Linked DNA regions of Homo sapiens: all the other regions are linked to region 1. Evidence: fine-mapped expression QTL. A gene starts in region 1. Each other region holds a variant in brackets. All regions are shown on one strand. Distances are between the middles of the regions.

Region 1 (2,692 bases):
TGGATTAGACTAGCTGAAATGAAGTAATTAAGAGACTCAATAGAAAACATTGCCAAGAATAAAAAATAATTTGAGGAAACCATGAAAAGTTTACAGGTTACTCTGTCACAAAATACTTTGTTAATTCACTACCCCGCAGCAACACACATCACCAAGGCTGGCTTCTGGAATGCTTTCTACTTGTAGCCATTTTTGAACAATAGGTGATTCCGCTTTTAACAACACTGTTAGAATATAATGTAGCGAGTTTTACCAGAGATGTTTAAGACTACCTGGCACAAGTAAATTTCATTGTATACATGTATATACACGAGGGAGGGTGATCATAGTCTAGAAAAAAACAGGTCTTCAGAAGTCTAGAACTTTAATAACCTTAAATCCAAATTATTCCCTGCGTCCATCCATAATGAGAAGGAAGAAATCTACACTTGCATTTCTTCCACCTTTCACATCTTTCTCATTTAAATCCTACTGTACTTGATTTGTGTTGTTCCCAACGTACTAGGTGCTATGCATGACGTAGAAACGTGTTTCCTTATATGTATGTACTAGCAGGCTCCTTCAAGCACATGCCTAAGGTTGAAAGATTCAAATATAATTATAGCCTCTTAAATTATTGCGTCAGAGCCCGCCCTATCCCCTCAGAAAAAGCCCCCTTTTACACCATCAAATGAAATATCAGGTTATTTGCACTGGATATTTTTTAAAAGAAAATATTTGATTTTAAAATCAAAGAGTTCTTGGTTTTCCATCATTTCACTAATTGTCTTACTAGAGACCCGAGTCTCCTTTGTCAAAATATATTTCAGTACGCATTTTAAAAAATATGTGTGTGTGTATACTTAAATATATATATATATAAAGTCTTGGACTTATTTTCACCTAGCCTGGGGCATATCGTGGATAGTTTCAATCGACAAAACAGGCACTCTCTGGCCTAGGAGTGGAATCCATCCTCAATTTTCGCAGGCTCCTCACAATTCTCTATTTGGAAGAAGTGTCCCTCTCCTTCCCTTTTCTTTTCCTCCTTTACTCAGCGTCAGTCCCCGCAGCCATCTCCTCCGACCCTTTTTGTCTACGTCCCAGCGTCGCGAACCACAGCGGCGGAGGTGGAGCGGGGAGAGGCGTTAGGCCGGGCGGCTAAAACGCGCCGTTAAAGTGGGGGAGAGATTGCGCGGAGCCCACGCGATCCCTGGGACGCCGGAGACAACGGGGCTCTTGGGAAGGCGCGGAGCCCGGGGAAGCCGGGGATGTGCGCGTGAGCCGTGCCCGCAGGGTCTCCCCGCCTCCGCCACCTTTCTTGGGTGGCTCTCCGCCTCGTCCTCCCTCCGAGGGCCGTTGGTACATTCCTAGTGACTCCAAGCGCTTAAAAGGGGCCCGGGAGGATGAACCCCACAGATCTGAACCTGATTTGTGTGTGCACCGCGTCTCCAGCGATCCCGGATCCACTGCGCTGCCAGGGGCCTGGGGGTGGGTCTCTTGCTGTCTCTGCGACGACATCCTTACGTTTCGGCACTCTAATGCTGGGTTTGTGCGTGTGTGTCTGCTTAGCGGTCTAGCGGGCTGTTAGGCTCCCTCGCCCCCAGCTCCTTGGCTCGCTCAGCTCCTCCACCGCAGCCCAGCAGTGAGACGCGCGCGCAGCCAGCTCCCCACGAGATGGAACAGACCGAAGTGCTGAAGCCACGGACCCTGGCTGATCTGATCCGCATCCTGCACCAGCTCTTTGCCGGCGATGAGGTCAATGTAGAGGAGGTGCAGGCCATCATGGAAGCCTACGAGAGCGACCCCACCGAGTGGGCAATGTACGCCAAGTTCGACCAGTACAGGTGAGCGCGCTGCAGCTTCAATGCCAGGCGGCGCCCACTCGCCCCGTCTGAGGAGGAATGGACGTGGGGGACGCAGCCCAAAGTGACTGGCTCGGGAAGCTCGGGCCGCGCTGCGTCCGCCGCTCGCCCCCTCGCTGGCCAGCCGCGGGGCTGGCACGACTCGCTTGGGGCTCCGCGGCCACAGCGCAGGCGGAAGGTGGATCCTACTGGCCTTGCTGACCTCCGGCCGGGAACGGCGGACAGGCGCCGGGAAGGGAGGCCACCGCGCGTCTGCGAGATTTTCTGTTCTCTTCTCTCCCGCAAACCCCTCTGCTTCTAAACCACCAGTCCTCCTGCCCCTGGCCTCGGGAGCAATGCCCACACTCCCAAGCCATCGTTAACCCCGGGCGCGGAGATGCGGAGAGACCGCACTCAGGTTCGGGCCCTCCTGACACCTTAAGGAACCGTCTGGCCGGACTAGCAGAGGGTGCTCCCAGGGGAGCACTACATCAGCCATCGGGAGAAGTGTGTGATGTTGAAGAAGACAAGTCACCCGCGTCAGTTCTCCATCACTGCGCCTTCGGTCGCCTGCAACCGGGCACCTTATAGCAAGCATTTTTACTCATGTAAAATAGCGTCTTGTGGCCGTCAGCTGCCACTACGGAATTTCTGCTGTTCCCTTTCCCAAACCAATTTAACTAACTTCCCCGACTGTGGGTTTATTCAAATCCACTGCCAAGTTTCGCAGATTAAATATTCGACCGTCGTTTTTTTCAGCCCCCAAATGATCTGATTTATCTTATCCTTGCTTCTGACGATCTGTAATGTAAATTAAAGACCCCTACTTCCCAGATGTACTTGAGTGAGGTGCCCTGGTAAGCTGGCTT
Region 2 (2,692 bases), 29 kb after region 1:
AATAGCAAAAGGGCACAGGTTTTTTTTTGAGATGGTGAAAATGTTCTGAAATTGACTGTGGCCATGGTTGCATCTATATGAATATAATAAAAACCATTGAGTTGTACACTTCAAGTAAGTGGGTTATATGGTATGTTTCTCTCTCAATAAAGCTGCTAAAAACTATGCTATTCTGAAAAAAAGAATAATATTGCTAATGATATTGCGTAAGAACAAAGATTAAAATAGCTAAGCCTGTATAACCAATAAAAGGCAAGCAATATTACTAAGTCTTATACAACAGGCAAAATTATATATAAAGTGCCCCAATTTATTATAAACTGTATATATATGGCTATATATATAAAACACATAAAAATCAATCTCTACTAAAACTTAAATTTGAGCTAAATATACAGTTGCAGGTTAGCAAATAATAAAACAGAATGCCCAGTTAAGTTTTACTTCTAGTTGCCTATATATATACATTTAGAGAAATGAAAAATATTACATAAGACATACTTTACTATAAAAAGTATTTCTTGTTTATCTGAAATAAATAATAACCATCAAAATTACATATCCATTTTTAAAATTTTATCACCCTAATGGCTCTCCTTAACAGCTCTTTGTTTTCCAGAATTTACTTATAAAACTCCTTGTGGTTATAATCTATACTCCATTTCCATTTTAACACGTCATCTACAGTGGTCCCATCCAACTAGTTTTATTCTTTTGTGCATTTAACATTTACCAATGACAAAACATGCTCATTACGAGCTGGTATTCTAGGCATGTACTGGCCTAAAATTAAAATCCCAGTAAGTACTCTTGGAATTTAATTTGTTGAAGAACATACCATCTTTGGTGACATAACTTGCTTTTCTATTCTTAAGGATTATATTGCATCTTGATCAATGACTTTTAAAATGTTGTCCAATGTCAAAAAAGAGCATTGCTATGAATTTTTATTCCCTTCCTCTTCAACAATACATATGATGATTCCTCTTGTTTCCATGTCGAAAGTGTATTTAATAATATCTCTATAAAAGAATCAAATTCTTCAAGGGATGGTATCAATTTCAAAACATAGTTATAATAAGTGCCATAATAATGAATTAATCCAAGTTGGAATTTCTTTTCTTGTTCAAAGTAATGTTGCCACTTTTAAAAACAAGTTTTGTAGCTACTTAGGAGGCTGAGGCAGGCAGATGGCTTGAGCTCCCAGGAGGCAGAGGTTGCAGTGAGCTGTGATTGCACCACTGCACTGTAGCCTGGGTGACGGAGCAAGGCCATGTCTCAAGAAAAGTAAATAAATAAAAACAAAATAAAATTAAAACAACTTTGATAATTAAAGGAATAAATTTTTCAAGTCATTCTCTAA[G/T]GCATTTAATAATTTCCTTAAACAACTACTTCAAAAATGTTCTTCTTTTAATTTGCATAATCCTCTTGCTAAAGTAATTGCAAAATATGAAAAAGAAATAAGTAGCCTTTACTTAATAAACTTTTTAAGTACTCAACAAGAATTTGGGGGGGGGTCTTTCCTTCAGAATTAAAGTATGATTTCATATGAGGATTCTCCCAAATACATTCGTTAAAGAGACCAATAAGTTTTGAATCTGATAGAATGGAAAAACGCTGCTTATAAGTATAGTAAGTCCTCACTTTAGGTCCTCCATAGGTTCTTAGAAACTGTGACTAAGTGGAATTGCATATAATGAAACTAATTCACCATAGGCTGATTGGTGTAAACAAGAGTAAAGTTTCTATGGCATGTTTCTGGTCACAAAAACATCATCAAAGTTCTGCATAAAGACCCAAAACACTTCTAATACTAAACATTGAAATAAATGTGAGCTATACATACTATTGGGAAAGATTAATACAAACAAGATAATTATTTACCCAATTGTTCCAGTTTAGAGTCAAGGGTGGCCGGAGCCTATCCCAGCAGCTCAGGGCATAGGTGGGAACCCACGCTGGCCAGGATGCCAACTCACTGCAGGGTGCTCTCACACACACTCCTACTGTGACAATTTAGACAACTTTTTTCATCAACGTTACAAGGGAATGATGTTGAACAAAACGATGTTATTTGAGGACATGCTGCATAAATGCTGAAGTAAGAGAAGAATTTCATAACAATTTTGTGACAATATCAGTAGAAGGAACATCATATGCTATTTGAACAGCATTATGCAGAATACAGGCAGGACAGTCAACATCTTCTATACAATCATTCATGCTTTGCTTCAACTTTGACTACACATTTTCTGTACCTGTATGCATACATTTACATGGTCCCCACCAAAAGCTATACAATTTATCTCATGAATTCCTAGTTCACTAATAAAGTCCACTAAAATTTTCCAATGTGCCTGAAGTCTCCTCTGGAAGATTTTACTCACAATAGTCTTATAAACAATCCTTTTTTACAGGAAAAATGCTGCACAAGAAATAAGAAATTTTTTTCTGATCGTGATTATTTTATTCACACTTGGCTATGCCACAAAAGGTGAGACATTAGATCTTTGATAATCTGTAGAGTAAATGCAGCTATTATATTTTTTATTATTGCTGTAGATTTTGTCCTGGCACTTAAATATTTGCTTGCAGTTTTGGAATCGAAAAATGCTCTGGTAGCAGTACCTTCAGATAGTCATTTGAGCTTTAAGATTGATGATGACATACACCAGGGAAAGCCATTACAGTT
Region 3 (2,692 bases), 91 kb after region 1:
TTGGCCAGATGTGTGATTATATACTGATTCATGGGCTGTAGCCAATGGTTTGTCTGGATGGACAGGGACTTGGAAGAAGCATGATTGGAAAATTGGTGACAAAGAAATTTGGGGAAGAGTTATGTAGATGGACCTCTCTGAGTGGTCAAAAACTGTGAAGATATTTGTATCCCATGTGAGTGCTCACCAATGGATGACCTCAGCAGAGGAGGATTTTAATCAAGCGGATAGGGTGACCCATTCTGTGGACATCACTCAGCCTCTTTCCCCAGCCACACCTGTCATTGCCCAATGGGCCCATGAACAAAGTGGCCATGGTGGTAGGGATGGAGGTTATGCATGGGCTCAGCAGCTTGGACTTCCACTCACCAAGGCTGACCTGGCTACAGCCGCTGCTGAGTGCCCAATTTGCCAGCAGCAGAGACCAACACTGAGCCCTCAATATGGCACCATTCCTCGTGCTGCTACCTGGTAGCAGGTTGATTATATTGGACCTTTTCCATCATGGAAAGGGCAGAGGTTTGTCCTCACTGGAATAGACACTCTGGATATGGGTTTGCCTATCCTGCACTCAATGCTTATGCCAAGACTACCATCCATGGACTCATGGAATGCCTTATCCACCGTCATGGTATTCCACACAGCATTGCGTCTGGCAAGGCACTTACTTTACAGCTAAAGAAGTGCAGCAGTGGGCTCATGCTCCTGGAATTCACTGGTCTTACCATGTTCCCCATCACCCTGAAGCAGCTGGATTGATAGAACGGTGGAATGGCCTTTTGAAGTCACAATTACAATACCAACTGGGTGACAGTACTTTGCAGGGCTGGGGCAAAGTTCTCCAGAAGGCTGTGTATACTTTGAATTCGCATCCAATATATGGTACTGTTTCTCCCATAGCCAGGATTCACGGGTCCAGGAATCAAGGGGTGGAAGTGGAAGTGGCACCACTCACCATCACCTCTAGTGATCCACTAGGAAAATTTTTACTTCCTGTTCCCATGATATTACATTCTGCTGGCCTAGAGGTCTTAGTTCCAGAGGGAGGAACACTGCCACCAGGAGACACAACAACAATTCCATTAAACTGGAAATTAAGATTGCCACCTGGACACTTCGGGCTCCTCCTACCTTTAAGTCAACAGGCTAAGAGGGGAGTTACAGTGTTGGATGGGACAATTGATCTGGACTATCAAGATGAAATCAGTCTACTACTTCATAATGGAGGTAAGGAAGAATATGCATGGACTACAAGAGGTCCATTAGGGTGTCTCTTAGTATTACCATGCCCTGTGATTAAGGTCAATGGGAAACTACAACAGCCCAAACCAGGCAGGACTACAAATGACCCAGATCCTTCAGGAATGAAGATTTGA[G/T]TCACTCCACCAGAAAAAAAAAGCCATGACCTTCTGAGGTGCTTGCTGAAGACAAAGGGGATACAGAATGGGTAGTAGAAAGTAGTCATCAATATCAGCTATGATCACGTGACCAGCTGCAGAAATGAGGATTGGAATTGTGATGAATATTTTCCCCTTCTTTTGTTAAAAACATGTTTTTTCATGCATATGCTTGTACTCAGAAAATATCTTCATTTTATTTCCTTTCTCCTTTATCATGTAACATAAGATTTATTGACTTCACATCAGCATTTAAGTATTGTTAATTTAATGTAATAGTATTTGGGGCCGGGCACGGTGGCTCATGCCTATAATCCCAGCACTTTGGGAGGCCGAGGCAGGCAGATCACGAGGTCAGGAGATCGAGACCATCCTGGCTAACACGGTGAAACCTGGTCTGTAATAAAAATACAAAAAAATTAGCCGGGCGTGGTGGTGGGTGCCTGTAGTCCCAGCTACCTGGGAGGCTGAGGCAGGAGAATGGCGTGAACCTGGGAAGCAGAGCTTGCAGTGATCCGAGATTGTGCCACTGCACTCCAGCCTGGGCAACAGAGAGTGACTCTGTCTAAAGCAGATAGGTGCATTTCCAGTTGTACAAAGGATATTTGCATTATGTTAGGCATAATTATGACCTTATTATTGTCTTTATTTGAAGATTATATATGATTTCAGGAGATGTGTTCAAGTTGACAAGGGGTGGGCTTGTGATGGTTAATACTGAATGTCAATTTGATTGGAATGAAGGAAAAAAAGTATTGATCCTGGGTGTGTCTGTGAGGGTGTTGCCAAAGGAGGTTAATAATTGAGTCAGTGGGCTGGGAAAGGCAGACCCACCCTTAATCTGAGTGAGCACAATCTAACCAACTGCCAGCATGGCTAGAATAAAAAGCAGGCAGAAAAGTGTGAAAAGAGAGAGACTGGCCTAGCCTCTCAGCCTACATCTTTCTCCCATGCTGGATGCTTCCTACCCTCGAACACTGGACTCTGAGTTCTTCAGTTTGGGAACTTGGACTGGCTCTCCTTTCTCCTCAGCCTGCAGATGTCCTATTGTGGGACCTTGTGATCATGTGAGTTAATAAACTCCCCTTTATATGTATATATATCTATTCCATTAGTTCTGTCCCTCTAGAGAACCCTGACTAATACAAACACCTTCCCCAAAACAAAGAAAAAAACCCTTCAGTGGCTCCCATTTGCCTGCAAGACTAAATTCACAATGCTAATGAAGATATTTAAAGCTCTCTTTGTGATCCCAAGCTACCTTCAGCTGGGTTTTTCATCTATTTTGGGTCATG
Region 4 (2,692 bases), 160 kb after region 1:
CTATACCTTTTATTTTTTCTCTTGCCATATTGTACCCATGAATGTTTTTGTAGTGTTTTTTAAAATTTCAAAACATATGAGGGTTTCTAATCTCCTTTTAACGTTGGTTTCTAATTTTGCTGCACTCTTTTCGGAGAACAAGCTGTATAGCATCCATTCTTAGGAATTTATTAAGCCTTGTTTTGTAGCCTTGTACACTATACATTTTTGCAAATGTCACATGTTTGCTTGGTCTCCAGACCCATTCATTCTACCTGTAGAGAAAGATATAGAGAGATGTTGCTCATTTAAGGCATTTGCCGTATCTTGCAGGATAGCCCCCTAACCTTGAAGGTGCTTTCTTTTAGCTGGTGCCAAAATTGTGAGGTCAGCAGGCTATTCTGCTCTTCTGGTGATCCAGCTCCTTTTTGGAGATGGGCAAGACTAGTGAATTCCAGTGGTGTGAACGCATTGTCATACTTTCTTTGCAGTAGTATGAATCATTCCATGACTCAGGGGACAGGGTTGCATTCATTCCCCCTAAGTGTCTATATTTTAATATAATAAGCCTCATGAACTTGAGCATTTAATTAATGCTGCAACCCTTATAATCAGATCCTAAGCTTAGTTCTCAACTACCTCCTCCTGCAGTTATTGGAAATAAGATGTGCTTTTAAAGTTGCATTCAGGGCTCTCTGATTTTCCACATAAATTCTCATCTGGCAATTTCATTTCTCTTTGTCCCTACTTATTCTCCCTAGGGCCTTTAGAACAACCCAGATGACACTATAGTTCCTAAGATCTGTAGAACTCGTAGCAATCAAGTTTTACCGCTACTTGATTTCCCAAAACCTTGACCTCCTGTGTCATCACCAGTGACAGTTTGAGTAACTGTGATACTACTATATGTCAAGGATTGTCCATACCCCATTCCCCCTGTACTCTTCAAATATTGCACAATCCAGTCCAGGATTTTAAGGATTTTACTTTGTTTTCTGGGACCAGTCACAGTATCAATTACTGTGCCAATTAAGTTCCCAGTGGGAAAAAGATGGTGCAGTCAAATTGGGTAATTTGAAGGGACTATTTATAAAAGTGCAATCAGAGTAGGACAAACCATGAGAAATAGTGCAATACTCTGGGACTGTAAATAGTAGAATTTCCAAAAGGCAAAGAGAAGGAGCAATTATGGGAACCTAGTTTAGGAAGTCACATGATAGGAGATAAGATATTTGGGCAAGAGGTTCTGCTCCCAGGCCTAGGCAACCCTGGATGGAGGTAGCTAAGGGAACAAATACCTCTACCTTACTTTTTGCCCTCCCTCAGATTTTCTACCAGGAATCTTCAAACCCAAATCCAAATGCAAAGGAAATTTATACAACAAGAGAGTCTGTTGAGGTAGAATATACCCACAGGATACCCTCTCAGGACACACATAAGGATGGAAAGGAATGAAGAGTGGATCTAGAAGGGCAATCATAAAATATCAAG[C/T]AAAATATGAATTGGATCTTAATAATGTTAAAATTTGTGGTTCCTTAAAGATGTCCAAATGTAGATGCTGAGTAGTCATCAATGGCAAATAGACCATATTTAAAGCTGTGGGTGTAGAGGGCCTATAAACTGAGCCTCGTTGTGCATTAATATTGGGTTGAGGAAGATGGTCTTGCAAAGGAGACTGAGAAAAAGTAGCTGAGGAGTTGGGAAGAAAGTCAGAAAGGGTGGTATAACAAAAGACAAGGAAAAGGTGTTTCAAGACGATGAAAGTCTACAGTGCTCAACCCTCTGATAATCAAGTAGGATGAACAGTGAAAATGTTCATTACCTCTCCTCTGCCATATGTCATCCCTTACAGGACCATCCTTACACCTGAGCTAGAGGGGCCACTGCCCTGGGATCCACACAGTAGAGGGCTCTGCATATCATAAACACACACACACAATTCACTTATCAGTCACCCTTCAGGATCATTCTGGTCATAGGGAAATTCTTCTCCACCTCTCTTCCCCTATGTCCTTAAAACAAAAAGTCACTGTGTCCATAAACTTGAAGGTTTGTGGTTTGTACTGCTGCTGACATCAGAGAAACAAACAGCTTCAGAATGCAGGAAGATTTAAACAGTAGTAACAGTTTAAAAACAAAAGACAAATTAATTAACTTTTCACACTGTCCTCTTAGCAAGAATAAAATAGATTCTTTTATGTAGAAGTATTCTTTCCCAGTAAGGTCAAACAGCATCTATATTCTTCCTTTTCATTATCTTTCAATTCACAATTCCAGAGGTACCAGTGAAACGGGAAACTCACAAAGTTGCACTGAGCAAAGATCAACTGAGAAATATTTTGCAATATTAAACAATTCATAGTCTCTTAAAGTTGCAGGTATTTAGGCTTAAACTGTAACATCTCTTAATGATGGTTTATACTGGCAATTAGATAGACAGTAAATGCTAAAATGCAAATAGTTCTGATTTTATAATAATATTTGATGATAATTACATTTTCAAAAAACTAAATTAAAAATTTTACTTTAAGTGCTTTTGATCTACATTTTTGATATTAACTACACTGTACATTCTATTTTGCTTGAAATTCTAATACATAATTTTAAATATTTCAGAAGGAAACTTCTTAAAACATGACAACAATTAAATTAAATGTTTTGATTTTTACATTTATTTTACTTTACATTCCTCATTAAAATATATTCACATTTC

What was found. PIP is the estimated chance that this variant, and not a neighbour inherited with it, causes the effect.
Region 2: its variant is the best candidate, but not a certain one, in a credible set for the expression of CDO1 in whole blood (INTERVAL, PIP 0.77).
Region 3: its variant is the best candidate, but not a certain one, in a credible set for the expression of CDO1 in subcutaneous fat (TwinsUK, PIP 0.59).
Region 4: its variant is the best candidate, but not a certain one, in a credible set for the expression of CDO1 in sun-exposed skin (GTEx, PIP 0.60).

The regions. Positions count from the first base shown.
Region 1 is chr5:115,815,362-115,818,053 of GRCh38, reverse strand. It overlaps CDO1 (cysteine dioxygenase type 1), which reads left to right and starts at 1,395. Exons shown (of 5, transcript NM_001801.3): 1 at 1,395-1,826. The coding sequence starts at 1,657. LOC124901049 (a long non-coding RNA gene) reads right to left here and starts at 966. Exons shown (of 2, transcript XR_007058908.1): 1 at 883-966.
Region 2 is chr5:115,786,153-115,788,844 of GRCh38, reverse strand. No RefSeq gene overlaps it. Among named protein-coding and RNA genes, the nearest start is that of CDO1, 29 kb to the left of the region's middle. The variant G/T (reference allele first, on the strand shown) is at 1,364.
Region 3 is chr5:115,724,507-115,727,198 of GRCh38, reverse strand. No RefSeq gene overlaps it. Among named protein-coding and RNA genes, the nearest start is that of CDO1, 91 kb to the left of the region's middle. The variant G/T (reference allele first, on the strand shown) is at 1,377.
Region 4 is chr5:115,655,798-115,658,489 of GRCh38, reverse strand. All of the region lies in intron 3 of LOC102467217 (a long non-coding RNA gene), which reads left to right. Among named protein-coding and RNA genes, the nearest start is that of TMED7-TICAM2, 31 kb to the right of the region's middle. The variant C/T (reference allele first, on the strand shown) is at 1,471.